Regions from separate parts of the Homo sapiens genome. Here region 2 is linked to region 1. The links come from fine-mapping of genetic effects on gene expression. Tissue or cell type: uterus. Region 1 holds a variant in brackets; the other region holds the start of a gene. All regions are shown on one strand. Distances are between the middles of the regions.

Region 1 (2,678 bases):
CCAGGAGGACCCCATGGGGACATCTCTGAGCCCCTGGACGGGGGGGACACTGTTCAGGGAACAGAGGAGCCGCAGTGAGTGCCCAGGATTAAGCCAAGGCCGACGCAGTGCTCCTGTTCCCCCAAAAGCCTCGGGACTCCCACATGAGCCCATGCGTTACCGGAAAGGGGTCCGGATCCACACCCTAAGAGAGGATTCTAGGATCTCGCGCAAGAAAGAATTCAGGGTGAGTCCGCAGAGTAAAGTGAAAGCAAGTTTATTAAGGAAGTGAAGGGGCCGGGCGCGGTGGCTCACGCCTGGAATCCCAGCACCTTGGGAGGCTGAAGCGGGTGGATCACCTGAGGTCAGGAGTTCGAGACCAGCTTGCCCAACATGGTGAAACCCCATCTCTACCAAAAATACAAAAAATTAGCCAGGCATGGTGATGGGCACCTGTAATCCCAGCTACTCAGGAGGCTGAGGCAGGAGAATCGCTTAAACCCAGGAGGAGGAGGTTGCAGTGAGCCGAGATCGCACCACTGCACTCCAGCCTGGGCAACAAGAGCGAAACTCTATCAAAAAAAAAAAAAAAAAAGAAAGAAAGAAAAAAGAAAGGAAGGAAGAAAAGAATGGCTACCCCACAGACAGGGCAGCCCTGAGGGCTGCTGGTTGCCCACTTTTATGGTTATTTCTTGATGATATGCTAAACCAGGGGTGGATTATTCGTGCCTCCCCTTTTTAGACCATATAGGGTAACTTCCTGACATTGCTATGGCATTTGTAAACTGTCACGGTGCTGGTGGGAGTGTAGCAGTGAGGATGACCAGCGGTCACTCTCATGGCCATCTTGGTTTTGGTGGGTTTTGGCCAGTTTCTTTACTGCAACCTGTTTTATCAGCAAGGTCTTTATGACCTGTATCTTGTGCCGACCTCCTATCTCATCCTGTGACTTCCTTAACCATCTAGGAATGCAGCCCAGTAGGTCTCAGCCTCATTTTCCCCAGCCCCTATACAAGATGGAGTTGCTCTGGTTCACACGCCTCTGACACATGCAGTGAGGACCCCTCCCCGCCCAGGAACCCAGTGGATGATTCCTCTCAGGAGGTGCGGCTGGGAATTAATTTAATTTAATCTAGAGAAATGATGTTTGTTTCATGTTCAAATGTTCTGGAGAGGTTACACCAGTGACAGAGGCCCTCTGAACTTACACACACAAAAGGCAACTCATTAGCAGGAAGATGAGAAAGCAGAAAGCGTCTCAAGACAGGAAGCTCGGCTTGGTGTCACCCAAATGTGTCTCCCCTTGACAAATCATCTCCCATGATCTGCCGGTCCCCGGGGAGGACAGGCAAGAGGCGGTGATGGGCTGTCAATGTGCATCTCGGCGTGTGGCAGTTGACAGGGCACCTTCATAGGTTTCTTCTCTGCAACTTCACTGCCACCCCCTCAGAAACTGAGACCCATC[G/T]GCGGCCGGCCTGAGGCACCCACAGCTGCAGAGAGCCGGGCACATCCAGGGCCTTGGGTGTGTCTCTCCTCCACTGTGGTGGAGGCTCCCCTCCACTGTGCCAAGCCCAGGGGGGCTGGCAGTCCCCGTGGGTGTGGCCCAGAAAGACTGGCAGTGTCTGTCCCAGACCTCAGGGCCACAGTCACCAGATAAGCACCCACTGCACTCAAGGCCTCTCTGATCAAGTCCCACGACCAGGCTCTCCAAGTCCTGACACCGCGGAGACCCCCAAAAGAGGAGGATGGAGCAGAGGGCAAGGCTCTCAGCTCCGCGGACTCACACCCAGCTGCAGAGGCAGGGGGAGCCGCCCTTTCTGTGGCCGGGGAAATTGAGGTCACTTCCTGTCTCGCTTCCCTCTCTCTGTGCTGGCTGCATCCTTCAGAAGGGGGGTGGGTGGCTGCAGGGCAGCGCCAGGCAAGGCTGCGGAGAAGCCGGTGCTCCCTGTGTCTAGGATGAAGAACAGAGCAGGGGGCTCCTCGGCGGTGTCGCTTCACCTCTCTTCCTGCTCCTTGATTCTCTCCACCCCCACCACCAGCCCAGGTGGAGGCTCTCGGTGATGAAGGTGCTGGCAGTGAGGGGCCTGCAGAGTCCGCATCTCTCTGCAGCTCAAGGGGCTCTCGGAGGCCACTGGGAGCTGGAGAGGGAGGAGGTCAGAGGCCTACAATTGGTTTTCCTGCTTGGAGAAAGAACAGATAGGAGCTTTCTAGGGCTGCGGCTCCATAAATAGCTCTAACTGTCCCTTCTCTCTCTTTTATGTTCTTTCAAACATGAAGAAAGAAACAAGCTCTAGCAAGGAACTCAAGTTAGACCGGCAAGTATTTGCCAAAGGTTAAGGGGCCAGAAAGCCAGAAGGTGGACACAACCTTAGGGACCCTGGGCCATGAGCCGTGAGACCTCTAGGATCAGCAGGGCCCAACAGGGCCATGCAGGAAGCCCTAGCTTCAAAGCCACAGGCACTGGGGAGTGGGTGGGGGCTCCCCAAAAACCACACGCTGCTCCCCAAACTCCTTTTAGAAGTGCCCCGGAAGACCTGGACCTGGCTGTGCACAAAAGCACCATGCTCTCCTCTGACCAGATCCCTTGGATGAGGTCCTTAAAGACCCCCTGGAGCTCAGTTTCCTCATCAGTAACTGGAGAGGTTTGCACCAGGTGGTCCTTGAGGGGCTCCCCCCAGCTCTGAGCCCACGATGGTGCA
Region 2 (2,678 bases), 600 kb after region 1:
CGTTTTCAGCCTCTTCTAAACTATGCAGAAGCTGCGGACATTTGACTATCTATATTCGGCAATTCCTTTCCAAAGCAATCCTACCGAAAACAGATCACACGGCCCCCACGGGCGGGCAGGACAAGCCACCAGGCCCTGGTGCAGGAGCTGCGCGCTCCACACATTGTTTAGAGGCCGACGCGACACAGCCATCTTGCGTCGGGGGCCCGGGCCCGGGAGGAGAGCGAGCCCCGTCCCCTGATCCCGGAGGCCAACACCGGCGAGGGGCTGCCCTGCACGCAGGCGGCCGGCCCAGGAGTCTTAGCGGATCAAGTTGTCTACGGCGGACTCGGGCCGGTCCCGCAGGACCCGGCCGCACTTGGCCGAGCGCGCAGGCGGGAAGGAGGCCGTCGGTCCGCCCCTCCCGCTGCCGCAGCGGCCAGGTCCGACAGCGGGCGCGGGACGCTGGATTCCTATTTGCCAGCTTCCTGCTGGGGAGCGTTTTCCAATGGGGCGCGGCGACCCGGCCGACCGCGTCCTCCTCCCCCACTGCCGCCCGGGTCTCCTCGGGGGCGCGCGCCGGGGCCCGCGCGGGGGCAGCCCCTCCCTCCCCTCCCCGCCGCGGCCCGAGACGCCCGCAGGCCGGGCGTTCACCCGCCGCGCCTCCGCCCGCCTTCCCCTCCCCCCACTTCCCTCCGGGCGCCCCAAACCCGGGCTTCGGGGGTTCGACGCCGTGCGCACACGGAGCGGGATGGGAGTGCAGGGCCGGGGGCGGGGGCTGGCCGGGTGCGGGCGGCAGTCTCGGCGGGAGCCGGCGGCCCCTCAGCGTGTCTTTTGTGTTTGTACACACACGGCGCGAGGCGGCCTGGAGGAGGGAGCGGGCGGCGCGCGGGGGAGGGGCGAGCGCGCGCCAGCGAACGGGCGCGCGGGGGGAAGGGCGGGGGCGGGGCGCGAGAGGAGCTATGGGGGCGGGGCCGAGCCTTCCCTCCATTGTGTGTGATTGGCTGGCGCGCGGCGCGGGGGCGGGGCGGCGTGTGTTGGGGGATAGCCTCGGTGTCAGCCATCTTTCAATTGTGTTCGCAGCCGCCGCCGCGCCGCCGTCGCTCTCCAACGCCAGCGCCGCCTCTCGCTCGCCGAGCTCCAGCCGAAGGAGAAGGGGGGTAAGTTTCCCCGTCTGCCCGCTTCCCCGGAACCGAGCCCCGCTTGCCGTCAGCCCCGAGCCGGGCCCTGGCGGTGCCGGGAGGGGACCCATAGCCCCTCCGGCTTAGCCCACAAACTTTTTGGCCCAGAAATGGAGGTGAGGAGCGAGTTTCCCTGTTCCCTCTGGCGGCGGCGGCTCCCCCGTCTCTCGCCGCCTCAGCCCAACAGCAGCAACCGCCGCGGCGCCGAGCCTGCTCTCCCTCCTCCTCCCCGCGCCCCTGGCTCCTCTTTCTTCGGTGAAATCCCGCCCGCCGCCCCTTCCCCGGACCCCAAACCTTCACCATGACCCGCGCGGGCCTCTTAACTACCGCCCCCGGGCCCCAGCCCCCAGTTTTCGAGCGGGAAAGGGGTGGAAATCGCCGCCGCTTCGCACCCTGGGGTAACTCGCTTTTTGCTGCCTCCCCACAGTTGTTGCTAAGCTTCACCATCTTGTCTCTCTTCTCTGGTCACCGACCATATTTTTTCCCCCGTTTCTCTCTTCCCCATTTCAAAAAAGCAAGAATTTTTAAAAGAGGGACGTTTTTTTCCCTTTTTTGGAGAGGCGGAAACTTGATGCATTTGAAATGCAAAAAAAACTTTTGCATTTTGGAGGGCGGCACGTGGCAGGGGATAGGGGTATTTTCGAGCGATTTGGTGTTTTGTCTCTTTGGAACGGAATCGGATACGTTTTGCGATTGTTTCCATTTTGTTCTGGTCGGGGAGCCGAGTTGGTTCCTGCTCGAGGCGCTGGGAGCGAGGCGGGCAGGTTGGGGGACCCTGTGCCGAGGGACCCGAAGGAGGCAAAACCAAAAGTTTATGTGGTGCTTGGGGTGGACCGGTCGGCGGATGTCGTGCGTTAATTAAAGCCTGGGTGCGGGGCACTTTTTATTTCACTGCGAAGCCTGTGAGGACTGGACGCGAGGACGGGGCTTTGTAGAATGCTCGCTGGTGGTAGCTGTTGTTCCTCTCTTGTTTTTTCGAGACGCCTTTTTGTCAACATAACTGTAAAGATGCAAAACCAAGAATATTTTCAGATATTTACAGCAATCCATCAACAGTCAGACGAAGGGGGGGCAGCCAAAGTGGGGGGGAGTAAGACCTTTTTTTTGCTGTAATTTGACTCGACCTTCCAGTGGTTTGTGCCTTTTTTCTTTTGACTTGTTTGTGGATGGAATGTTTACAGACATTTCTAATTACTGCTTTAATTAAATAAATTGGATCAAAGGCCGTTCGAGGTATTTTTGTTTTGCCGTTTGTCGCTCAGAATTGGCATTTTGAGAGGTGATTGATACTGCTAACAATTTTCTAGTACTCTAGTTTGTTTCAAGAAGAGATTTTGGGTAGACGTAATCTTCACCCTTTCAAATTATATAACAATACGAACATTATTTTTTATACTGATCATAATTTCCAGATTTGGGGAGGGGGTGATCGTGGCAGGAAAAGTTGTATGTTTGGTAGTTGCATATGGTGATTTTTGATTTTTCAATGCTGGTAGGTAAGTAAGGAGGTCTCTGTAC

What was found. PIP is the estimated chance that this variant, and not a neighbour inherited with it, causes the effect.
Region 2: H3-3A starts here. The variant in region 1 is fine-mapped to the expression of H3-3A in uterus (GTEx, PIP above 0.99).

Annotation. Positions count from the first base shown.
Region 1 is chr1:225,466,002-225,468,679 of GRCh38, forward strand. LINC02765 (long intergenic non-protein coding RNA 2765) reads right to left here and starts at 1,771. Exons shown (of 3, transcript NR_187303.1): 1 at 1,188-1,771. RefSeq lists enhancers at 1-435, 1,124-1,423, 1,474-1,733, 1,864-2,143. The variant G/T (reference allele first, on the strand shown) is at 1,445.
Region 2 is chr1:226,061,673-226,064,350 of GRCh38, forward strand. It overlaps H3-3A (H3.3 histone A), which reads left to right and starts at 1,044. Exons shown (of 4, transcript NM_002107.7): 1 at 1,044-1,139; 2 at 2,657-2,678. H3-3A-DT (H3-3A divergent transcript) reads right to left here and starts at 823. Exons shown (of 2, transcript NR_185887.1): 1 at 1-823. RefSeq lists silencers at 163-1,012, 599-764, 1,383-1,452 and an enhancer at 2,646-2,678.